5 separate regions of the Homo sapiens genome follow, and all the other regions are linked to region 2. The links come from fine-mapping of genetic effects on gene expression. A gene starts in region 2. Each other region holds a variant in brackets. All regions are shown on one strand. Distances are between the middles of the regions.

Region 1 (5,103 bases), 82 kb after region 2:
ATCTTTCAGCCTATACCCACACATCTATTTCCTGCGGTGTGCCCTGAAGTTGGAACAGTAGAGTAGGCATTCCTCATGCATACTAGATCTAGCTCTATTATTTTACTTAGTTCTATGTAGTCTAATTGTGTGACTGGATACCCAGTTATATGGTTAATCAAAGTTAGCATCATTCTGCTTAAGAACAAGGGCAGGGCCAGGCTGGAGATGGCCTGGACCCACGTGCTTGACAGGCCTTTTACAGAACAATAAGAGGCAAATGGAGTGATTTCTGCATCCCTGGTTGAACAACATGAGACCACTGGTGTCACGGGTGACCCAGTTCAGAGGACGATGATGAGCACTTCCATGTGCATGGTCCTTCACGTTACAAAACGCTTTCCTATGCATGTTGCCCTTTGATCCTCCAGTCAGCTGGATGAAGTATCCTCCTTCTTCTCCAGATGAAGAGACTGAGGCCTGGTCATTACACACCATGTTCAGGGTCACTTGTGAAATTGGAACTCCTGGCTGGGCACAGTGGCTCATGTCTGTAATCCCAAAACTTTGGGAGGCTGAATGGACAGATCATCTGAGGTCAGGCATTCAAGAGGAGCCTGGCCAACATGGCGAAAACCCATCTCTACTAAAAATATAAAAATTAGCTGGGAGTGGTGGCGCACACCTGTAGTCCCAGCTACTCGGGAGGCTGAGGCAGGAGAATCGCTTGAGCCTGTAAGGTAGAGGTTGTCGTGAGCCGAGAGCACATCACTGCACTCCAGCCAGGGTGACAGCAAGATTCCATCTCAAAAAAAAAAAAAAAAAAAAAGGGATACCAAGTGGCCAGTCTAAATTCATTTGCTTGTGTGGCCCACTGGATGCCTTAAAAAAGGATAAAGTGGACAAGTAGTATGTCCAAAGAAACAATAGCCTGGACAGATATTTGAGTCCTGTAAATGAGGCTGGGGCTGTATGTAGATCTGGTGGTGCTTGCTGTAAGGGTTTAATAATAGAGCCAAAGCCCTGTAATCCCAGCACTTTGGGAGGCTGAGGTGGGCAAATCACCTGAGGTCAGGAGTTCGAGACCAGCCTGACCAATATGATAAAACCCCGTCTCTGCTAAGAATACAAAAATTAGCCAGCGTGGTGGCGGGTGCCTGTAATCCCAGACACTTGGGAGGCTGAGACAGGAGAATCGCTTGAACCCCAGAGGGAGAGGTTGCAGTGAGCCGAGATTGCATCATTGCACTCCAGCCTGGGCAACAAGGACGAAACTCCGTCTCAAAAAATAAATACATAAAATAAAAATAATAGAGCCAAAGCCTCTTTTAGATGATTTTGCTGCATTCAAGCTTTCTAAGTCCAAGGGGTTGTGTGTGGGTGTGTCTGTCTGTCTGTCCTTCTCATTATGTGTTCATTTCTATCTGGTGAGGAAGCAGAAGTCATTATGTCTATAAATCTTGCATCTTTTGAGCCTTGACATATTTTAGACAATGTCCCAGTGGATGCCACATGTCCAGTCATCTGTGACTCCTTCAGGAAACTAAAATGCACACCTAGAGAGGAAAGAGTCAAAAGCCAGAAATGCAGGTAGAGTCCACGCTGAGGTTCAGGTCATCCAATAGAGTGTTTCTTAGAAAATAAGCCTTCTGCAGTATGCAGAGGAAAGGCTTTCCTCCCTACCTCCAGCTGCTGCTCTGCCTCCTTCCTGCATAATTTTTTAAAGCATGCAAAATGAAATGAGGCCCTTCACGTATGAGACAGCTATTTTCTCAGGTCTCATGCCTTCCTTATGAATAGCTCAAATAATACAACTTATAATTATGCTTTGCCTGGCAGCATATTTTTGCCTTCTGAGTGATAGTTGATATTTCCTGGCAAGTAAATACCCTTGGGAATGAGCCTCTTCTGTCCCACCTGGTGCAGGCGGCCCCTCTGTTAGTGTTCCTACCCGCCCTGGCCTCCAGGGCTGCCTCCCTGCAATTCTTAGGTCTTTTCGCCAAGAAGCGCTCCCCAACTTCCTCACTTATCCCAGGGGCACAGGGAGGTCTGAGCACCCCTCCTGAGGGAGCCATGCCAATCTGATTAATTAAGGTAAATAGGGGAGTGATCGGTAGTGGCTTAAACTCCAGTCAGGTAACCTAGGTAATGGCAGGGAGTCTGTGCCACTGCTGACAAGTAATGTGGGATTAATTTCTTCCCAGATCTATGGCCTTCTTTTAGGCTCAGGGTCCTCTTCAGGAGCCTCAAAAAGGAACTAGGCTATGGATAAC[A/AGG]GGGAGGGGAATTGGTAACAGTCAGCCAGGGTTACCTGTGGGTGTTTTGTCCCTCCAGGAACACCACGTGGGCAGTGTAATGGAGTATAGTGGGCAGACATCAGAGGCCTGGGGGTCAGCGCCACTCACCTGCATCAGGAACTTGAGCAAATCCCTCCTGAACCTTGCGTTAGCCAGCTCCATGTTCCTATCCCAGCTACCACTTCCATGTCAGTTTCCTCATCTATAAAATAGGAACGATAATAATAGTGCCACCCTCTAGGCTTGTGGTGAAGATAAGGACTTGAAATTGCCTAGCGCAGAGCCTGGAACATAGAGAGTCCAATAAGTGTTAGCATTTCAGGTCTTCTCTATGGGAGAAAGAGGCTCGGAGTGCTCTGTCTTATATGTACTCTTTTTTTACAGACAGGGTCTCACTCTGTCACCCAGGCTGGAGTGCAGGGGCCAGATCATAGCTTACTGCAACCTTGAATTGTGTACTCTAGACGGTAGGAAATGGGCTCAGCCTGGAGGTGGATCTGCAGTTTCTGGTGGTTAGGAAAGGGGGCTGCAGATGGGGAATGCTGAGGGCGAGGGGTCAGCTGAGGCCAAGAGGGCAGGCAGGAAGACTGGGACTAGGGAGAGAGTGGCCTCAGAGCCAGGAGAGGAGTGGAGAGGTTAACACTGCACTCAGAGAAGAACCTAAGCTGTTGGAGGAGGATCTTCTGAGGTCACAGATATAGAGGTGTGGCCCCTTGCAGGAATTTGGTTCAAGCCTGACTTCCTGTCTAGTGGCCCAGTTACTTGCTGAGCATGCAGTTTTATAGCTGCTGCTCCTGGCTTGAACACTGGCCGGCACTGAGAACCTGATTCTGGTGGTTTCTCCACCATATGAAACAAAGATCGTGGAGAAATAAAGTCACATGAAAAAGACGTGTAAGCTTCCTGTTCAGGGAGTGAGGCCAGCAGATGCATAATGTATGGTTTCTCATGCTGCAAGTGGACTGGGGAGAGAGTTTGCAATCTGTGGAAACATTTCAGACTTTTGCAAGTTATAAAAGGAGAGAGGGTTGCCAGGAGCATAATGTCCAGTAAATAGCCCTGAGCCTGGCCAAATAACCTCAGACAAGCCAATCCCTGGGGCTCAGTTTGTTTATTAAAAAATCTGGAGGGGATACACAAGCAGTTGTTAATAGTGGTTATCTCTAGGGGGTGAGAGTAAGGGTTGGGAGTAGGGAGAAATTTTTATTTTTCATTGTACCCTTTTGGCTGCATCTTTCACCATGTGCCTTTATTACTTTTATAATTGCAAATCAAATTATAGGGTTTTTGGCATTTTAAAAATGCCGTGAAGGAGTTGGATTAGATCATTGGTTTTCAAACTTGTTTTTTAAAGCAGTGGAACACTTTTCACATAATCTTATTTGAAAGCCTAATTAATGTATCACAAAGAAGAAATTGGGGCCCCTCTTGCCGGGCTCCCCCTCCGCCTCCCAGTTGCTGCATCTCCAGAGATCCATTGAATGTAGTTTGAAAATAATAGGTTTATATGATTTCTCTGGAGCCTCTTTCACCTCTTCAATTCTATGCTTCCCTTCTATTTAGCAAAGAAAGCTAGGGCATTCTAGCCCTGTAGCCTAAGCTGCTGCTTGTACTGCAGTAGCTGCAGACACACTCTGGCCCTTTGGAGAGTCAACAGTTGGGGAGGATGAGCTGTGTACAGGCTGAATGTCATTCAGATTCTGGAGGACAGGAAACAGGTCAACCTTGAGTTACTTCTGGGTTGAAATGATAGACAATGTTAGAAGGTGGATTTTGCAACAATTCCAGGTAAAACTGAACCTGGGGCTTTGATAGGTAGGATGCTAAAGAGACATTGAAATGGTGTAAGGTGATAGAAAACCATTCCCCTTGTAAAAACATGCTTATGAACACAGACCTGCTGCTTACTTATGCTACTATCTTGCCAAGTTACTTAGCTTCTTGGAGTCTGTAAAAAGGAGAACTACTAGTGCCTGCTTCCTGCAACTGTTGAAAAGATTAAATGAAACTATAGGTCTAAGTGCCTGGTATATTGCCTTGCCCATGATAGGAGCTCAATAAATGTGGGTCACCATCATCGTCACCAAATTCCTGGACAAGTCAGAAAATGGCCTTGCCACCTCTTCCTACGTGTTCTTGGTGAAACCTGTAACCTCTCAGGACCTCATTTTTCCTTATCTGTAAATTACAGGTACTCAACCAGCTCAGGAATTGCAAATTGGTGGCCTGCTAGATAAAATCTAGCCTGCAAACATGTTTGTTTATCTAATGTAATAAACTAAAAATCAAGAAATAGCCCCTAGAAATCTGAATTTTCCAGCTGCTCTTTGAAAAATGAACATCTAGTTCCATTGGCCCTCACTTGGCAACAGTTGGCTGGAGCTGGGGTAGCAGCTGCCCCTCACATGGGCATGCATGCACTCGCCTCTCCCCCAGCCATCATATTTCTGCAGTGCCTTACACCTGGCCACTCCCCCTTCACAACATACATAAGCAGCTGAGTTTCCAACGTCTGGATTGGAAGGTTTCAGGAATTCTGTGGCTTTCTCCTGGTTCTGACACTGGCTCATTCCATGACCCTGAGTGTACTCCTTCACCTCTCTGGACTACCACATCACCGTCTATAAAACGAATGAGTTGAGCTTCCAGACTCAGCTTTCTTTGGGTCTTCTATTCAGTTCATAAACATTTACTGAGTTGCTCCTATTTCCAGGAATTCTAAAAAGCACGTGGGAGGATACAGAGATGAATAAAAATGGGTCTGGCCCAGAGATGTTTTATAGCAATGCCTCTCAAAATGTAGTCTGCAGACCAGCACCAGTTCACAATG
Region 2 (5,103 bases):
CTGCAGAACAATGTGCATTTACATAATGCCGCTGAATTGTACACTTTAAAATAGTTCAAATGATCAGTTTTACAAACGTTTATCACAAAAAAATGTGTTTAAAAAAGACATAGAGTTAGGAGCTAGAAATAGAAAAATGGCCATTCTAGGCAGAGGTAACAACAGGTGCAAAGGTACTGAGGCAGGACTGTGCCTGCCTGAGGGATGCTCTGAGGAACAACAAGGAAGCCAATGTCACTGGGGCACAATAAGGACAGTAAGGAGTGAGAGCTGATCACATATGGGCTTGTAGGGTCCTGTACTTTCTTAGGAACCTAATGAGAGGTGGGAAGCCACTACAGGGATTTGAGCAGAGGGGCGATACAATCTAACCTTGGATAAAACAAGATCATTCTGGCTGCCACATTCTTTTATTTATTTAATTAATTAATTAATTTATTTATTTATTTATTTTTTTGAGATAGAGTCTCGCTCTGTTGCCAGGCTGGAGTGCAGTGGCACGATCTCGGCTCACTGCAACCTCTGCTTCCTGGGTTCAAGCGATTCTCCTGACTCAGCCTCCCAAGTAGCTGGGATTACAGGTGCCCGCCACCACGCCCAGCTAATTTTTGTATTTTTAGTAGAGACAGGGTTTCGCCATGTTGGCCAGGATGGTCTCGATCTCTTGACCTCGTGATCTGCCCGCCTTGGCCTCCCAAAGTGCTGGGATTACATGCATTTTTAAATCTGACTCTCATTCGCCAATGGGTATAAGAAAAGCATGTACCTCACAGGGTAACTGTGAGCATTTAAAGAGGTAATGCATCTCAAGGGCTGCCTGACATAGAGTAAGCACTCAATAAAAGGTAAGCATTATTGTGATGGAAATCTAAAGAAAGAAAACAGTTCCCTGAGGAGGAGTTTTAGAAGGCTTCGTGGAGGAGGTGGCAGTTTAACTAGACACGGAAGGATGAACAAGATTTCCACCGACCTAGAGAAGGGGGTTTTATGGGTAGAAGGAGCTGCGTGGTCAACAGCACAAGAAGGAAAACACAAAGCCTGCAACAGGCTAAGCGAAGCTCAGGGCAGGGCAGGGCAGGGCACGGCAGGAGACAGAACGTTTGATCAGCCCTAGCAGGTCATAGGAGAGGAGCATGATGGACTCTAGAGCCGAGGTGATGGAAGCCTTGAAGGTTTTGCTGCAGAAATCAAGAACTGAGCTGTGATGTCAGAAAACTGAATCCCCATCGCTCAGCCTGGAGCTGGAAGAACTTGGAGGCAAGAGTTGCCAGAACGCTGGTCAAGGACTAGTGGCAGCTAGGCACGAAGGTCAGCGGCTGAGCTAGAGAAGCAGAGAATCAAGAGGACGAATGTGGGGGTGGCAGAGAGTAAGGTAGCCAAGGGGGTGCTCCGTTCCACCGCATCAGGGAGGAGGCAGCTAAGTGACCAGCGTCGAGCGCCCCGAGGAGGAGCCGCTGGCTGGCATCACCGTCGGAGTCCGGCTCCACGGCCCTCCGCATCGCCCAGAAGCCCGACTCCTCTGTCAAAGCCCTCGCCACAGTTACAGACACATTGCCTGGTCTAGTGAAATTACGTGTTTCATGTTTCAGCTCCCAGACGTCAGGGCTCAGGTCTGTTTTCATTTCATCCCAGAGCCTGGCACAGTGTTTGGCACATAGTGGCGCTCGCCAACGGTTTGCTGAGAGCTTTCCGGGAAGGGCTCAGTGCGCTTAGGATCCAAAAGCACGCGTGAGAATGCAGGGCATTCTAACTCCAAGGGGGTTGGACTTGCGTGAGGAAAGGTGCTGCAGAGAGGCTACCGTCACTTACCCACCCGCCGGTTTGCAGGATCTACAGACGGGCGGCGGCCGGGCACAGCTCCCTACAGTTTGCAGAGGGCGTTCACACCTAACGCCAGGGCCCCCCTAGAGGAAGAAAACCAGGGCCCGCCCGCGGAACAGTGAGCGTGCAGCACGGCTGTGGCCCCGTTTCATGGCCGGGAACACCGAGTCGCCGGGGTCAAAGTAGGTCCGCAGGTCCTGGGGGCCGAGCCTAGGTGGGCTGGAAGTGACAGCCCCGGGGGCTCCAGGCTCAGAACGCCCGGCGGGGCCCCAGCACTATTTGCATATCCCCAGGGAGGCAGCAAAGGTTCGGCTGCAGTCCCGGGCGGAGGTTGCCGGGCGGGGCGGCAGGGTACCCGGGCGAGCGGACATGCACCCCACCCAGCGGTGCCCAGCCCGCACCAGTTAGCGCCCAACTCGCCAACTCCGGGACTTTCGCAAAGCTCCAGAGGGCGGGGGAGCCGCCGAGGAGTGGGACGGACCATCGCGGCTCGAGAGGGGGGAAGCGCTCCGGCCCGGCATCCTGCAGCGCCCGGGCGGGCCGAGACGCTCCGTGAGAGGGCCGAGCCTGCAGCGCAGAGACTCGGCGGTCGACGCGGGGGCAGGCGGCGCGGGGCGGGCGGCTCGGCGGGGCCCGGGGGCGGTGGCGGCGGCGACGACCCCCTCGTGGCGGCGGCGTGGTGGCGGCGCCCAGCTCCCCGGCCGGCGAGCGGCGGAAGTGCCGCGGAGTTGGAGCGGGGCCGGCGCCGCAGCCGCTTCTGCTGGCTGAGCTGCTGCCGCCGCCGGGCGGACGGGCGGACGCGCGGAGCTGGGGGCGGCGCGGCGGGGCCGGCGGGGCGCGGCGGGGCTGACCGGCCCCGATGAGGCGGAAGGAGAAGCGGCTCCTGCAGGCGGTGGCGCTGGTGCTGGCGGCCCTGGTCCTCCTGCCCAACGTGGGGCTTTGGGCGCTGTACCGCGAGCGGCAGCCCGACGGCACCCCTGGGGGATCGGGGGCGGCGGTGGCGCCGGCGGCGGGACAGGTGAGTCCCCCCGTTGCTACAGGCCGGGAACACCCCCTTCCCGAATTCACTTTTAGCCTGTGGTTCCTTCCTCCACCTTCTGCTGTCTGCCTCCTCAGAGTCAGCTCCGAGACTCTTCAGCTCTTCCCATTTTCCGGATGGGAAAATTAAGTCCTGTCGGGACTTGTCCAGGGTCCCACGCCAGTCAGAGACTGAGTCCGAACTAGCACTCAGGACGCTATTTCTCACCACATGTTACCACCTTCCTTTCTGTCCCCGTCTGGTATTCCTTGACGTCTTCCAGCGGATCTCTTTTGAAGGATCCTATCTGCATCCCTGTATCCCAGGATGACTCCTGCCTTGTGCCAATAGGAATGAAGATTCTGGTTCTTCTATTTGGTGTCCAGGTCCTCTCTGCTTCCCTCCTCCCACCCCCCCCCCCCCACAACCCCTACCTGCTGATCCCAGTGTTCTTTGCTCAGGTCAGCCCTTTTCCTGATTTCTCATCTGCCCAACGAGACACCCGGGCCTTCCTCCTCTCCCCATTTATTCAACACCCCCGCCCCAACTCTAGCCTTTTCCTTTCTCAGATCCTGTGGATTCCTTGCAGAATGTAAAGATCATGCTCCCTTTAAAGCTTCAAGCCCCTGGGGGTGGAGAAGGGGGTAAGCTCCTGGTCCTTGAGGGACCTGCTGCCTTTGACCTTATGGGAGTCCAGAGGTGGGGCTCTGGTGGGGGGACCCCCAAAATGTCCCAGAGGCTATTGGTGCCCAGTGTCCTGAGGATGGAACACCAGAAGCCTTCCCTATCTCTTCTGAACTTGTCTAGTCTGGTTAGTTGTAGTGTTTATTGCAGCCAAAACTGGGATCGGAATGGTTTCTGCCTCCTTTGAACTTACCCACGTATGTTTGTGTGTATGTGTGCGTGCACGCATTTAGACTAGCAGCTCCCTCATAGCAGAAGCTCTGTCACATCACTCCCACCCTCCCAGGAGGTGCTAGTGAGTGTATTGCTTAGACTGTTTCATATAGTGGAACATTTCAGGCTTTCTTACGGGATTTCTCTGGTCCCATGAGAAGTGGATAATTTGTGTATCAGGGTCAGACTTGACTGACTGTTGGCTGGCCTCGACGAAAGAGGCTGGCTTTTCTGAGATTGATGGTTTTCCTTATTCTTCCCAGTATCAGGCTGCTGTCTAGGCAGTCTGGCATCTGGAGCACAGAGGGCTCTTTGCTACAGAGCTGACCAATTTGAGCTCCGCCTGTAACTCTGTTAATTGCTGCAAAGCATCCCAGAGGGTCTCATTGATCTTTCTGGTAGAGCTTACTGTTTAGAAACTAAGGTTTCCATCTCTTTCCTAAACCCCTGGTTCAAACCCTGACAGCTAGCTTAGACCTCTCTCCCTGAAATTCTGTATCTGTATGGATTTTCCGTTCATGAAATCTCTTTCCTCTGTTCCTATTCAGTACCAGCATCAGAGTCAGGAGTTCCAGGGTTCTGACCTCAGCTCTACCACTAACTTACTGTGTGTGTCCTTGATCACCTTTCATCTCCTTTTCTGAGCCTTACTTTCTTGGTCTGTAAACCATGATTATTGGTCCAGTTCTAACATTCTGTGATACTATCAGTTAATCAATGAGGAATACAACGGTCCCTTCTTTTTTTCTGTCTTGAGTCCAGAGTTCCTTGTAGCATCCCTAGCTGTGGAGGCTCCATACTGGACACAGCTCCAGGTCAAGGGGGAGTGTCCTACCCTAGTGCAAACTCTCCTTTAGAATAGCTGTAGCCCATTCTAAAATAGTGCTTGACATTCTGCCTCTGCTTGGAGAAAGACCTCGTATTTCATTTGCAATAGATGCCAAAGACATCCTGATTTTCATTTCTGTAGACCCAGATGGGTAGAGAAGGTCAAGGTTAACTGCCAGTTTGGCCTGAGCTTTCAAAGTAAATTACTCACTTGTGCAAGAGGGTATTGATAGAGTAAGGCAGACTTTTGGGCAGGGAGAGAGAGGGGAGCAACAGCTGGGTGCTGCTCAGAGCCCCTAACTGAAATGGATAGACAGGCTCATCTGGGAAGATCTAGTTTTTGTTCATTTCTTTTTCTCTGGAATAGCATGAAGAGGAGGAGGAAGAAGTGGTGAAGGGGGTTTGGGGGTTTGGGGGGAATACCAACTGATTATTCTTGCTTTAAAGAAAATCTCTTTGCTTCATGGGAGCAGCAGAATGGAGCTGTTTCCCCAATGATAAGCTCTTCTAGGTGCTACAGGATTCAGCATTCATCTGCT
Region 3 (5,103 bases), 240 kb after region 2:
CTACACTCCAGGCTGGACAACAGAGCGAGACTCCATCTCAAAAAAAAAAAAAAAAAAAACAGAAAAAAACCTCTGCATAGCAAAAGAGTGAACAGACAACCTGCAGAATGGGAGAAAATATTTGCAAACTATACACCCAACAGGGGACTAATATCCAGAATTTTCAAGGAACTCAAACTACTCAACAACCAAACAGACAATCTCATCAAAAAGTGGGCTAAGGATATGAATAGTCATTTTTCAAAAAAAGAAAAGCAAATGGCCAACAAGAATATGAAGAAAGTTCAACATCACCAATCATCACAGAAATGCAAATTAAAACCACAGTGAAATATCATCTTACACCAATCGGAATGGCTGTTACTGAAAAGACAAAAAAATAACAGATGTTGGCTAGGATATGGAGAAAAGGAAATTCTTATACACTGTTGGTGGGAATGTTAATTAGCATAACCTTTATGTAAAACAGTATCTACCCTGTGTGTGTTTGTATATACATATATATATACATGTATGTGCGTATACATGTGTGTGTATATATACACACACACATATACTAGTATTCCATTGTGTGTGTATATGTGTATATATATACATGCACACATGCACCCACACACACAATGGAATACTATTCAGCCATGAAAAGGAATGAAATAATGTATTTTGCAACAACATGGATGGAGCTAGAGGCCATTAACTCAAAATAAACGAATCAGACAGAGAAAGACAAATGTTGCATGTTCTCACTTATAAGTGGGAGCTAAATAATATGTACATTATTACACATTAATATGTGTGAAGTAATAGTCGATGAAAACTCAGAAGGTCTCCATTGGGTGGGAGTTGGGAGGGGGTGAAGGATGAGAAATTACCTAATGGGCAAAATGTATATTACTCCAGTGATGGATACACTAAAAGACCTGACTTTACCACTATGTAATCTATCTATGTTTGTAACAAAATGACACTTGCACTCCATAAATTTAGACAAATAAATTAATTAAAAAAGAAGTGGTGATGGTTGCACAACTTTGTAAATATACTAAAAACCACTGAATTGTACGCTTTAAAATGGTGAACTTTATGGTATGTGAATTTTATTTTTGTGGGGGTGGAGACAGAGTCTCGCTCTGTCACCCAGGCTGGAGTGCAGTGACACAATCTTGGCTCACTGCAACCTCCGCCTCCTGGGTTCAAGCGATTCTCGTGCCTCAGCCTCCTGAGTAGCTGGGATTATAGGCATGTGCCACCACACCTGGCTAATTTTTGTATTTTTAGTAGAGACAAGGTTCCACCATTTTGGCCAGGCTGGTCTGACCTCAAGTGATCTGCCCAACTCAGCCTCCCAAAGTGCTGGGATTACAGGCGTGGGTCTGGCCTATATCTTTTAATATATATTTTTAAAAGTTTTAGTTCCTTTATGGTCAATACACAAGAATGTTTTATTATATGTCGATGTTAAAGCTCTGTCCTATATTTGCATTTTTTAAGTTTATTTGGACAAATTTTATGTGGCCAAATGTATTGATATTTTCTTTTGTAACTTTGTTTTGTTTAAAAAATATTTTTCCACCAATGAATAAGATAGACTTTCACCTATATTTACTTCCAAAATGCTTAATCATTTCCTGAAAAAGATTAAATTCTTTTATTAGAAAAAAAGAAAAAAAGAAACAAAAGGGGGAGAGTATTCCAGGTGCAGGGGCCAACATGTGCAAAGACCCCATGGAGGGAGTATGGCGGGCATGAAAGGCAGGCAGGCTGGAGCAGAGAACAGGAAGGAAAGAGGAGAACAGGGAGAGGGTAGGCAAAAGCCAGCACCATAGGCCCTTGTGGGGCACATTAAGGAGACTCTGATCTTTATTTTAAGAGTAATAGAAACCATTAAAGGGTTTAAAACTGGGCACAGTGAGATTATCAGATATGCCCTTGACTGATGTCTGGAGCCAGGAAGTGACTTACTCCACTGCTTAGCACATAATGGGCACCCAGGGCAAACACAGTGAGAAACAAGCCAGGGCAAGTGGACCTCTGGTGCCTCCTCAAAGACACTGACCACTTAGGGGCAAGATCCTTTCCTTGAGCTGGTGGAAGAATGGGAGTAGGTATTACATTTCTCACCCATTTTAGCTCCTTCTCCTTCCAAGCCTGCAAGCGAGAGTAGAATCCAATGTATCTAAGATGCTGAGCTAGACACAGAGTGTGAGCTTTGTTGTTGTTGTTGTGGTGGTGGTGGTGGTGGTGGTGGTTGGCAGTGGCACACTTATTGGGAAACAGTCAGAGAAGCCAGCAATTTGCTCAAAGTTTTGGGCTCTACTTTTCTCTGTTTGGTTGGAACTGGGGCTTAGGGGATCCTGGAACTTAGTAGAAGCTCAATAAGTACTTGATGAGTGGACAAATGGATGAGTACTATATTTTCAGGTACACACCAGGCCTTTTTTCCCTCCACTCACAGCCCACAGCCCTTCTGATAGGCCGGGTTCCTGCACTTGATATATGCTACATCCCATTAAGAGAGTTCCTTCCCCTCCCTAGGCTTTGGATTCTCCACATGAGAATAAGGAGAAGGAGGCAAGTTAGATAATGGTCAGCCTGGACTCTTAGAGTTCTATAAATCTTGCATCTTGTATTTTGCAATGACCTGGTTTTGTTAAGAATTTACTTTCCAAGCTCAGCTGGGAGGTAGGGGTGGGACTCCCTCCCAGTTCTGTTATTGGTATCTCCCAACCCAGGGCTTCTTGGTTTTTGCTGTAAGTGGGTCCAACACTCAACATCCAAGGCTTCCCTGCTGCAGCTGCACACAGCTCTGCCAACCTCTGGCCTCGGGCAGCTGGTTCCACTTTTGTTATCCTCAAAGCCTGGTCTGCCCAGCTTAGGGACACCTGGGGTCCATGGTGGTGCTGCACCTGCACGGCAGCCTGCAGTTCTTCCCTTCGAGTGTGACTTCACTCAGGCCTGGCAGAGTGACAGCCCTGGGTGTGCTCACACTCACACTCACTCACA[CACA/C]ACACCACGGGAACAAAAAAAAAAAATGGTGAACCCCCAGAAAGGCAGTTTCTTAGCAACTTTACAGCCTTTGTTCATGAACTCCTTGGAATCCAAGTATCGTCTGATCTCCTGCCAGCTTCCGCCTGAGGGTAGGAGGAAGAGGATGGCAGGTCTGCCTTTATGAGAGCCCAGAGCTAAGCCCCCACACCACACCACTGGCCTGTCAGTCAGCCTGGGAAGCAGAGGCCTGAATTCTGCGTTTCTCTGGGATCTGGGGAAAAAATCTCTGCTATGATTTCTTCACAGCTGCAGCCACAGAATCCCAGGGCTTGGTCATTTAATCAACAAACACGGATTGAAATAGGTACCCTGGGCTCATGGTGTTTCGCATTTTGTACCCACAGTGATTGGTCCCAGCTCTGTCCTAGGCCCTGCAAATACCAGGTGCATAAGGGATGATCTGCAACTTCTATGGCCTAGTGATGAGAACAGATTTGAGTTCCCACACAAATTAAAAGAGAATAACTTGATTACCACTGCCTACAGGTAACTTTACTCCAGGCCTTTACAATAAACCCAAACTCCCTAGCCTGGCCCAAAAGGCCTGTTGGGACTGATCCCTGCCTACTTTTCCATCACCTCCTGGCAGGACCCCAGTTCCCCACAGAGTCCAAAGCTCTCTCACCTTCGGACCCTGTTCCCTCAGCTTGGAATACTCTTCCCCCCTGCTCTGCAGCTTCATCCTTTAGGTTTCAGCTTTACTGTCACCTCCCCCAAGAGGCTTCCTTGACCACCCTATTAAGAATAGACATCCCCCCATCATCATTCTTAATCATTCCAGCACCTCTGTAGCTCCTCGCATGGCATGTATCCTGACTTACAGTCGATTGTCATGGTTCATGGTAGTTATGTTCTGTAAGTCACCATGAACACAGTTAGTGAATACTGAACTATTGTCCCTAGGGGAAGTACAGGGGTACGTTCCTGCAAGCCTCTGATCACAACATTTTAATCAAGTGATCAATACATAATCTTGTTTTATATGCATTTATGTTTAGAGAGACCTTAGTTAATATTTATCATTGATTCATTAAATTGAACTCACAGCCAATAGCACTATGACTCATGCCTCAAGCAAAGGTTCTCCAATACATATATTTTCCCTGTAAGGCACATCACAGTCTTCTTGTGCTCAGGAACACTAGACAGCACTTCAGCCCTATGCTTGGGCACCATGTAAACCAAAATCACCAACAAAAAGCTTAAAAATATGAAAAATGTGGCACTCAATAAACCACCAAAGGACACTTGTTTACAGTATGAGAGCTGAAACAAGAAGGCAGATGTCCTCTGGTTCGACCTTAGCTGTGAACGTGTGTGTCTACAGGCTGGTATAACAAAATAACTTAACCTGGTTGACAACAGAAATTTATTTCTCACAGTCCTGGAAGCTGGGAAGTCCAAGATCAAGGTGCCAGCAGAGTCAGTATCTAGTAAGAGCCCACTTCCTGGTTCATAGACTACCATGTTTTCACTATGTCCTCATACAGTGGAAAAGAAGAGGGAGCTCTGCAGTGTCTTTTTATAAGGGCACTAATCCCATTCATTAGGGCTCCATCCTCATGAATTAATCACGTACCAAAGGCCCTATCTCCCATTTGGGGGTTTGGATGTCAACAAATGAATTCAGGAAGGGACACAGACATTCAGTCTGTGACAGCGCCTGCTGGACAACTCGAATTTTCTTCACCACTCTGTGCATATGCACATTCTCAAGTAATCTCAAAAGTGCCATATAGCAGGGTGCGGCGGCTAATGCCTGTAATCCCAGTGTTTTGGGAGGCTGAAGTAGGAGGATCATTTAAGTCCAGGAGTTTAAGACCAGTATTAGCAACATAGCAAGACCCCATCTCTACAAAAAACAAAAAAAAGGCAGATATGGTGGAACATGCCTGTAGTCCCAGCTACTAGGAAGGCTGAGGCAAGAGGATTGCCTGAGCCCAGGAGGTCAAGACTGCAGTGAGCTATGATTGTGCCATTGCACACTAGCCTGGGTGACAGAGTAAGACCAGTCTCAAAACATACGAATTTTTTTTAAGTGCAATGAGCATTGAT
Region 4 (5,103 bases), 230 kb after region 2:
GTAACTTATTTTTTTTTTTGAGACAGAGTCTCACTCTGTCCCCCATGCTGGAGGGCAGTGGTGCAGTCTCGGCTCACTGCAACGTCTGCCTCCTGGGCTCAAGTGATTCTCATTGCCTCAGCCTCCCGAGTAGGTGGAATTACAGGCATACGCCACCACACCCAGCTAATCTTTGTATTTTTAGTAGAGACGGGGTTTCACCACGTTAGCCAGCCTGTTCTCAAGCTCCTGGCCTCAAAGTGATCCACCCACCTTGGCCTCCCAAACTGCTGGGTGAGCCACCGCACCTGGCCAAGTTAGTAACTTTTAAAGCTAGGTGGTTAGAACAGGTTAATATATTATTATTTGGACCTCTGAGTTTAAATTTTTCCATAATTTAAAAAAAATGGAGAAAAAAAGAAAGTCCTTGGCTTTGCTATCCCTATTTATGATGCCCCTGTGCACAGGTATTCACCTTCACCTGGAGAGAGGACATCCGGCCTGGAGACCCCCAGCACACCAAGAAGTTCTGCTTTGATGCCATTTCCCACACCAGCCCTGTCACGCTGTACGACTGCCACAGCATGAAGGGCAACCAGCTGTGGAAATACCGCAAAGTAAGATGGGATGCGGGGGGAGCAGGGCACCTGCTTAATTTTTTTTTAAGGCAATACAGTGCTTCACCCCTTCTTTCAACAGAGCCCATCCACTTATTCATTTGTGCCACAAACCTACCATGCCGGATTTTGTAGTCATTCAAGAGTAGTCAGAAATCTAGACTTCACTGTGAAATCCTCAAGTCTTAAATGTTGGCAACTGATTCCATTTAAAAAGAAAAGTGCAGCCGGGCACAGTGGCTCATGCCTGTAATCCCAGCACTTTGGGAGGCTGAGGTGGGTGGATCACCTGAGGTCAGGAGTTCGAGACTAGCCTGGCCAACATGGTGAAACCCCGTCTCTATACAAAAATCAGCCAGACATGGTGGCTCATGCCTGTACTCCCAGCTACTCGGGAGGCCGAGGCAGGAGAAGCACTTGAACCTGAGAGGCAGAGGTTGCAGTGAGCCAAGATTGTGCCACTACACTCCAGCCTGGGTGACAGAGTGAGAACCTGTCTCAAAAAAATTAAAAAAATTAAAAAAATAAAAGATAAAAGGAAAGCACATACACACACACACACACACACACACACACACACACACACGATAAGGACCAGTGAGGTCTGACAGGAGGTGGGCAGTGTCTAGGTCCCAGGCCTGGAAGCTGCGTGCATCACTTCTGGCCACATCCCAGCGGGCAGAACCCAGTCCCACGGCAATACCAGCTGCAAGGGAGGCTGGGCAGCATCCGGCTTGTGAGCTCAGGAGGAAAACCAACAGGTGTATGAACAGCTAGTCAGTCAGTCACTTCCTCACTTTCTCATTGCTGGTATTGTTGCTGTGGTTTGACTGGCCACATGTCTCCAGTGCTGTCTGGCTTATTACCTCCATGTTTTGTAGGACAAGACCCTGTACCACCCTGTCAGTGGCAGCTGCATGGACTGCAGTGAAAGTGACCATAGGATCTTCATGAACACCTGCAACCCATCCTCTCTCACCCAGCAGTGGCTGTTTGAACACACCAACTCAACAGTCTTGGAAAAATTCAATAGGAACTGAGCCCTCATGTCCCCTTGGCAGGCCCCCCAGGGTCTGGCACTCACTGCAGACTTCCTCTTTCAAGGGAGGCAGGGCCCCTGTGGGCACTAGGTGTAAAAGGTGCTGGCCAAATGGTTCAGGGTGAAGAGGGCTCTTGATTCAGGGGCTGGGGTCTGCCTGGTCCTTGAGCCCCTGAGTTGTGGGGGTAGGGTGAAGAGCATATCCCACAAGAGGCCCCACAGGGAGCAGAGACTGCTTTAATCCCTGCTGACATCACGGAAAAGCAACAGAGCCTTTTCAACTTTGTCACTATGTCCCCTTGAACATTATGTGGGAGAACACCAAGGTAGCCTAGGCCACCCA[A/G]AAGTGAGTCCTGCGAGGTTGCCCAGCCCTCAGATGGCTCTCCTACATGATGGTGCTTTAGAAACAAAGGTAAAATTTGCCTGTTTGGGGCAGCTTTTAGTATCGATGCCACTCATCTGCAGCAGAAGAGAAAGAAGTCCTCTTGGGGCTTTTTAGTTTCTGCCGTCCTGGGGGGAACATTGCAGTTACTGCACAGCTTCTGTTCTCTGTCACAACCCCAGGTGATTTGGTCCGGTCAAAGGCCATACTTGGGGCCCTAAGAGTGTTCAGTATTGAATGCTGATCAGCTGCCAGGTGAGGAGTCAGAAGAGGGAGCCCCCCTAGACATTTCTTTGCAGCTATGGACATGCGGGATATCTCCCCCTGCTCTCTGGGTATTTGAAATGTCAATTTTAGCACTCTCCAGGCACAAGGACAGCCCAGCACCAGCTTTACAGGGCAGTGTTTCAGATGGCCCTGAGCCCACGGAAAAGGCCAGGTAGACCTCCAAACTAGAAATGCTGGCTGATTTGCCCTGATCCATGCTTCCATTTCCCTGTCTCTCTTCCCCAGGCAATTACTGGCCTCAAAAGAGGAACAGAGGTGCTGCGAGGTGCTCACCTCACAGAGTCTGGAGGCCTCCAGGATCAACTGTGGGCAAAGTGCCTGCCTCTGACCTCATCATGGTTCTAGTTCTCATACAGAACTCCAGAATTTTTAAAGAACTCTATAATTGGATTGCAAACTAGGATGCTACATAGGATTCTGGTATTCCACATCCAATATGGATTTCTAGAATGCTGTGATTAAAGGAGCCAGCCAGGTGTAATACAGTCAAGGCAGCCCCCAGCCTAGAGACAATCTGTGAAATCCAAAGTTGGTGGTGTTGGGAAAGCAGGGGGACATGTGTCCCTCAGCTCAGCAGAGGCTGTGGTACAACATGGTCCTTGGTGAAGACCTGCACCCCTGGAACCTCCCACCATCATCACAACTGTAGTCTCATTTGCAGTGGAGAAAAGAACCCGACGTCCCACAGCCAGATATACACCCAGCTCCATGCCAGCCCTTCATGTTTACCTTTTGCTTTGTTAATTACATGTCAGACTCCTAGAGGGCCTCCAGACTAATAGGAAGCATTTCTGTAACCAACCTGCCACCCACTGATTCAGAAATGGAAATCACATTCCACAATCTATGGCTTCCACCAGCTAGCCCAGGAAATACTTGAAATCAGCATTCCAATTAGTGTTGAGTCTCTTGATTGTGTCATTTACCAATTAAATAACTGAGACCTAAGTCTGGGAACAGAGCCACGAATCTGCCTTTGAGATGCTGGCAGATCTCAAGGCCATCAATTATTGGGGGAGGGAGGGACAAACACTCCCAATCATCCACCAGTCAGACTGAATGTGTAGCTGGCGAGGAATTACTTCCACTTCTGGCCCAGCACAAGCCCTGCTTTGGCCACCTGTCTGCAAGAGAGGCGGCCCCTGTGCTTGCAACGCTTACGTGTTGATCCCAGTGTCCTTTTCCAAATGAGTGCTGTAGCTTTAGAAGTGGCCCTCTATAGAAAGAAGTCAAAAGATGAGGCCCCTTCTAGAATCTAGGATAACAAGAGTGTTGACAGTTTGAGGAGTCGAATTGAGATTCATCATCAAAGAGCAATGCAGCGTCGTTAAAATAAAAACTGTGCCTTTTAAAAAGAAAAATGCAAATATAGAGCAAATCCCTAAACTTGAACCATTTCCTAGTGCCTTGCTAGACAAACATAAAGGGGCAGGGTTGTGGGGAGGGGAACGTTTTTGGTGGTGTGTGCAGTTCCTACTGGATGAGTGTGTGTTTCTTAATGTCTCATTTCAAGCAGGAGATGTTGGGTCTGGAGCAAGATCTGAGACTGAGATGTCCCCCAAGGGTGACAGGTCAGATTTATTTCAGTCAGTGCAAGTCACACTCCAAACTAAAGGCTGGGCAGTGCGTTTAGTCTGTGGCCTAGAAGACCTCATCAGCCCCCGAGAGGAGGCCTTGCATTACCTCACTGGGACCTGTTTGGGGGCCATCCCTGCGGTCCACCCTCTGAACCCCCAGCATGTTTGTCCTGTTTCTCACCATTGGGTTAAGGGGTGCCGAGCACTAGCTAGACTTCCACATAGTCCCACCCCAAGTGGGCGGCAGTGTTCCTGGCATGACCAGGATTCCTGTGAAAGCAGGAGCAGCAGCAAGCCGTCCCGGGCCTGCCTTTCCCATCCTTTGGTTCTCCTTTCCAGTCTGGGTTCACACCCTGAAAAGGGATGGGTGTGTCCTCTGAGCACTCTGGCATTTGTCATTGCTGAGCCCATATCAGTAGGTCCTGGGACTTGACAAAGTATGTGGGAGGGGAAGGAAGGACAGAACTTGACTGGCTCCATTTCATGGACCAACTGATCAATTGCCAGTACTAAGCCACTCATTGTTATGGCTTCCTTTTTGAAAACCACCTGTCTCAAGGATTCAGGTTTCTGCTCACATCCCCAGCTGATGCTCAATAAAACTCAGCCAGGAGCATATGGAGATGCTGACAGCCAGGTAATGGGTGAGACTGTGGGGTCCCTTTTCCTCTAAAGCCTTTACTCTGAGGATAAGGTCACAAAGTAGGGTGTGACTTGAAAGTATCGTGACCATGTGGCCCACCAGCAGCCTTTCCAAAGGGGAACTCCAGAGACATTTCATAATGCAAACAGCACTGTTGCTTTAAGAACAAGGCCTTTGGAGGTGGCTAAACTTGCACGCACGTGTGTGAAAAGCCATCCCATCTTCTGCCTCCAGTTGGAGCTTTCAGCTGTTAAAACAGTCAGAAACTATTGATTCTTCCCTTTAGGAAAAAATGCTCAGGCAGAACGGGGTACATCCACAGGAGGAATCGGACGAGAGGATGTGACATTCGGTCCAGGAGAGAAAGAGCAGTTTCTGTTAAAGATGTAACAAATGGATTTCCAAAGTCTACATGACATTCACTTTTCAAACTTCCCACCAGTTGAATTTCTTTTTTTCCTTAAGAAACAGGTGATGTCTTGGAAAACAGCTCCTTATGTCTCTCTGTGCATCTCCATTTTCCTAGTCTCTGGAGTCTCAAAAAGAGTGGCAAAGCACTTTACAGTAGTAACTGAGGA
Region 5 (5,103 bases), 110 kb before region 2:
CCCACTGCCATCTTCTCCCCAGTACTCTTGCTCTGCTGTGTACCACTTAGGCTTCTGGCTACCCACGACCCCACACTAAGGTGCCTTCTCTAGGCAAAAACCCAGGTCCCAAAGCTTCCCCTATGCCCATTTCTCTATCAAAACTCACCTTTCCAACATCCTAAACAACTGTAAGATTCAAAAGAAAGTCTGCTATGTAATAAACTCCCCCATGTTCATGACTGATAGTGGACTCAAATGGTTCTATGGTGGTTTCTTTTTAAAACTGATCTCCTAGAGAAATGAACCTTTACTCGAAGGTTAAGGCACTTAAGGTAGAATTCTGGGAATTCTGAAGCAGAAAATCCTCCCAGCACACCTCCAAGAGTACAGTTGAGACAACCACCACCATTGCCACCATGTGATACTAGTCCTGGGTTAGAGGTATGTGTGTTTTCAAGCACTATCTTGATAATGATCTGGTCTCTTTTATGTATCTGAGAAATGCCCTTCTTCTTATCATACCAAATCTAAAGGCATTCATCTCCATTTCCTTGGAGCTCTCTTTTAATCCATCTCTCCTTTCCACCCAGTGCCTGCAGTCAAGAGAGTGCAGGAAAGGCGAGGAGGGTCCCAGCTGCCCTGTTACTGCTTCTTATAGCAACTCCCGAGGCAATTACATTCACCCCTTTCTAAAATTCTCAAGCACCAAGTTTCAAATGCCTCATTCCCACAGGACTTTACCTCTTTCTTACAATGCTGTCTAGGTAAATGGTAATAATGAAAATGATGGTGGTGCCAGATGTAATGGGTTTCTTCTCCACGTTATGATTCATGGTGGTCTGAGGGATAGAAAGAGCCCATTTGGATAAGCACAGTAGTCAAGAACTGAAGTTTATGCCTGCTGTCTTGACATAATTATTAATAGTGCCTTTCACTCTCAAAAGTGTCCTGGTTTGGGTGACAAACTATTTGGTCATCCTATTAGGAGCACAGGCTTTGAAGTGGATTTGACCTGGGTTCAAACCCCAGCCTGTTTCTTACTAGCTGAATGACTTTGAACAAGTTACTTAAGGTCTATGAGCCACAGTTGCCAAATCTACTGATAGAGAATACTATTAGCACTGAGTTCACAGGGTCATTTGGAAGGACTGGCCTTGCACATTGCCAAGCACATGGTAAGATTGCAACGTGAGTCACCTCCAATTCTAAAGTTACAGAGCATACATTGTACAACTTCATTTGTGGACTCACCTAGGCAGGAAAGTAGACTCTTGAGGATGTTTTGCATTGGAAAAACCTGGACTTGTAACCAGACAGACTAGCATTCAAATCCCAGCTGCACCACTCACTAGTTCTATGACCCTGGGAATTTAAATGACCTTTCTGAGCTTCACCTTGTTCATCTGTGCAATGGGGATTAAAATCTCAGAGTTGTTGTGAAGGGAAAATAAGATAAAGGTATTAGAAAGCACTCCATATGAACTCAATAAATGCTGCCTCTTATCATTACATTTGCCCAGGTACACATCCAGGGTTCACTGGTAAGGGAAGAAGCAGATCTAGCCCTGTGCTCTTTCAGTTATATCTTATGGTCTCTGGGGACTGCATTCTTCTTCCTCCATTGATCAAAATGTTGTCCTAAGCCATCGGCATTATTTCCCACTCTAAATCCTTCTCAAGCTCTCCCCCTCTTTATCATGGAAATTAGAAACAAGAAAAGGAAGCATCATGATGACATGCAGCTGGCCCCAGGGTTTTTGGATTAGAACCAAATTTCATGTTTGTGGAACTGATGTCAATTTGCTGGCTATGTGACATTGGGCAAATTACTCCACCCCACTGAGCTGCAATTTCCTCCTGTGTAAAAAGAAAATAATACCCTTTGCAGGGTGAGCAGCAAACCCAAGTCATTCTAATTCCCAAGCCCATGCTTTTAACCTTTATTCTGCTTCAAGTTCAAGAGCTGTTTAGTCTCATGGCCATTTGGGCAGCAGTTAAGATGATAGCAGGTAGTGAGACCAAAGTTTCTGGACTAGAACCTACGTTTCAGGTGCATGGGATTGAATTCAAAAGATTGGGATTTGGGCTAAGGTATGAAGTATGACGCTACCTCATTCGAAAATAGTGTACAAAGCATCTGGCCTGTTTTTTGTTTTACATAACTATATCCCTGTAGCATAAACCATGGCCCACCAGCCAAAACCATCCTGCCACCTATTCTGGTAGCGTTTTACTGGAGCAGAGCTATGCCCATTAATATATGTATGCAATATGTCTGCTTCCTTGGAACTATGGAAGATTGAATTGTTGCAACAGAAACTGTATGGACTGCAAAGGGTAAAATAATGTGCTATCTGACCCTCTACAGAAAAAGGTTGCAACCCTGCTCTAGGGCATAATACCACTTTAAGTTTTAATAATGATAATTACAAGAATACGTGGTGCTGAGTGCTTACTCTATGCTGAGTGCCGTTCTATGGCTTTATATGTATATCTTATTTGTACTTGCAATAAATCCATGATATACACAATTATTCCTATTTTATGAGTAAGGAAACAGACAGAAAGAGGTTAAATAACTTGCTGGAGATCCAGTGGCTGGTAAATGGCACAGTTGGGATTCTAACCCAAGTAGTGTCAAGTATTACATTTCCTTGGAAGTTTGCAAACACATTTTCTTTCCTGATCAACTTGACCACTCATGATATGAGAGACAATTTTAGATGGTTCATAAACACCTTATTAAGAAACATCCTCTCCTATGGTGAGAAAGCCATTCCCTTTCAAGTTCACTTTAACATGACAAATCTCCCTTTTAACAGAGAGAGTGAACAGTCTTTTCACACACAGCAGTACCTTGCTAAAATTTAACTTCTAAATTAAACTTTTAAACTTAAATTTTAAATTATATTTAAAATTTAATATATTTAAAATGTATTGCTTCATTTCATAGCATGTATTTTTTGTGGTCACCTTTTATTTGTGGAAAACAATCCTTGTTTTCTCTTCACAGCAATTTCCTTTCAAAAGAAATTTATTTAAGGATAAAAAAATACAGTCGATTCAGATATTAAGACCATGTTAATAATGGTGC[C/T]GAGGGTGTGTAAATATGACACAAATCATGACCGTGGTACAGAAATGAATGACAGAGACCAGGCGCAGTGGCTCATGCCTGTAATCCCAGCACTTTGGGAGGCTGAGGCAGGAGGATCACTTGAGGTCAGGAGCCCAAAACCAGCCTGGCCAACATGGTGAAACCCCATCTCTATTAACAATACAAAAATTAGCTGAGTGTGGTGGCGCACACTTGTAATCCCAGCTACTCAGGAGGCTGAAGCAAGAGAATTGCTTGAACTCAGGAGGCAGAGGTTGCAGTGAGCTGAGATCGTGCCACTGCACTATAACCTGGGCAACAGAGCAAGACTCCATTTCAAAAAAAGAAAAAAAAAAAAAAGAAATGAATGACAGAGATAGGAAGCCCTGCCCAGAGCACTGGCCCAGGAGTAAGGTGTCGTAGCCCTCAGCCCAGCCAGCAGCAGTTTGGTATATGGCTGTGGACAGATTGTCCCCTCCCTGAGCTCAGATTCTCTATCTATTGAGTAAGGAGTTTAAATTAAATTATCTCTAACATTCTGTGGCATCCTAGTTTCTTCTTCTTGGCCTGGAATTTACTATACTTTAACTCGAGCCAATATTAAATGAGACGTGTTAGAGATCCACCCTTTCAAGCCCCGTAAAGACAAAGGACTCCACTGCACCCACTATGTCTTTTCCTCTTTGAGTGAGTCTATTAATTCCTATCTAGATTCCTGCCGAAAAAGGTGAGGAGATAAATGCATGTAGTGCAGGATTCAATTTGTGCTTCTTGCCTAGAAATTAAACAGGTCTGGGTTGGTCCAAGGTGTTTACAGGAGAAAGATAAGTTCTTTGACATGTCCTCATTCACAGCGATTCCACCTGGGCCCAGCAGGCCTTCTGATGGGTTTTCTCTCCCTTTGGAGGGCTCTGTGTCTGCTCACCCAGAGACAGCTGTGGCCATACCTCATGATGGCTGGGGAAAAAAAAAGAGAAGGATTTTTATGAAAAATTACAAGGTGCAGCACTGCAAATGGATGCCAAGCCTATATGAAAAGTAACCTGACTAGAAGCAGCAAGAGTGGAAAACCCCATTCTTCTCACATTTAAAAAAAGTTGTGGGGTAGAGGATGCCCAGGATAGGCCAGGTGCAATAACTTATCCTATTAATCTGCTATATTTAGTTCTTTTACCCCACATCAATCCTGAGAAGGAGTTATCATCATCATTTATTAATTTTATTACACTTTATAGTATAGATTAAGAAACTGAAATTCAAAAACATTTCATTTCTCTCATCAATACAGCCCTAATAGGTATAGGTATAATTGTTCCCTATTTTATATGTAAGGAACTTGAGATTCAGAAAGATTAATTCATGCAGCTAGTAAGGGGTAAAGCCCAGATTGGAACAGAGGTCTGACTCTCTGCAGGCCTTTTCTGTGCACTTCCTCACATGTAGCCTCAGGAAAACTTTATAGTAAGAGAAGGCAAGGGGCAAGAATTTCTCCTACATGTCAGATCATAGGGGCATGGACCTCGCACAACATCTTCATATTTCATTCCTCATTGTGTGTCAAGAATTCCTACGTGGTCAAAATGATGCATCCTTTTTCCCCAGGCATCCACAGAGATTTGAACCATCTGTCAGCCCTTCCTAATGGCAGCTGATGGAGACATCTGTGGCCAAAAGCCACCACTGCCAGCAAGGAGCAGGTTAAGAACCTGTTCTCTGTCTTGATTAAAATTCTTTCCCACAGGCTCTGCACACACTGTGAAGCAAAAGTCATCTGCAAGGCCCAAACCTCTGTCCTCAGGGAGTCCCCATCTGTAGTGGGCACTATCGATGCCCCAACCAGTGCCCCTCAGATCCCCTTTACCCCTTCTGTGATCCGTCTGCCAGCTTCTGTGTGCTCCGCTCCTAATGGCTCACATCTGTGACTTTCTTCAGAGGCCTGCCCTGGGGCTGCCGGATCTGCTCTGCCCTCACTTTTAGAGAGCTGAAAGTGTTCAAAGCCAGTACTGACAAGGGCAGGACTATGGAAG

What was found. PIP is the estimated chance that this variant, and not a neighbour inherited with it, causes the effect. A credible set is the group of variants that fine-mapping cannot tell apart.
Region 1: its variant is the best candidate, but not a certain one, in a credible set for the expression of GALNT10 in whole blood (TOPMed, PIP 0.68).
Region 3: its variant is the best candidate, but not a certain one, in a credible set for the expression of GALNT10 in whole blood (INTERVAL, PIP 0.60).
Region 4: its variant is the best candidate, but not a certain one, in a credible set for the expression of GALNT10 in whole blood (INTERVAL, PIP 0.86).
Region 5: its variant is the best candidate, but not a certain one, in a credible set for the expression of GALNT10 in whole blood (INTERVAL, PIP 0.86).

The regions. Positions count from the first base shown.
Region 1 is chr5:154,270,205-154,275,307 of GRCh38, forward strand. The region is part of intron 1 of GALNT10 (polypeptide N-acetylgalactosaminyltransferase 10); the gene reads left to right. Among named protein-coding and RNA genes, the nearest start is that of MIR1294, 74 kb to the right of the region's middle. The variant A/AGG (reference allele first, on the strand shown) is at 2,253.
Region 2 is chr5:154,188,187-154,193,289 of GRCh38, forward strand. GALNT10 (polypeptide N-acetylgalactosaminyltransferase 10) reads left to right here and starts at 2,547. Exons shown (of 12, transcript NM_198321.4): 1 at 2,547-2,839. The coding sequence starts at 2,681. LOC124901118 (a long non-coding RNA gene) reads right to left here and starts at 1,893. Exons shown (of 2, transcript XR_007059010.1): 1 at 1,810-1,893. RefSeq lists an enhancer at 957-1,922 and silencers at 2,143-2,232, 2,323-2,422, 2,433-2,542, 2,633-2,712, 2,783-2,842.
Region 3 is chr5:154,427,790-154,432,892 of GRCh38, forward strand. All of the region lies in intron 2 of SAP30L-AS1 (SAP30L and GALNT10 antisense RNA 1), which reads right to left. Among named protein-coding and RNA genes, the nearest start is that of SAP30L-AS1, 15 kb to the right of the region's middle. The variant CACA/C (reference allele first, on the strand shown) is at 3,004.
Region 4 is chr5:154,415,337-154,420,439 of GRCh38, forward strand. GALNT10 (polypeptide N-acetylgalactosaminyltransferase 10) reads left to right here. Exons shown (of 12, transcript NM_198321.4): 11 at 447-596; 12 at 1,478-5,103. The coding sequence ends at 1,636. The region is part of intron 2 of SAP30L-AS1 (SAP30L and GALNT10 antisense RNA 1); the gene reads right to left. Among named protein-coding and RNA genes, the nearest start is that of SAP30L-AS1, 28 kb to the right of the region's middle. The variant A/G (reference allele first, on the strand shown) is at 1,979.
Region 5 is chr5:154,076,769-154,081,871 of GRCh38, forward strand. No RefSeq gene overlaps it. Among named protein-coding and RNA genes, the nearest start is that of MFAP3, 40 kb to the left of the region's middle. The variant C/T (reference allele first, on the strand shown) is at 3,077.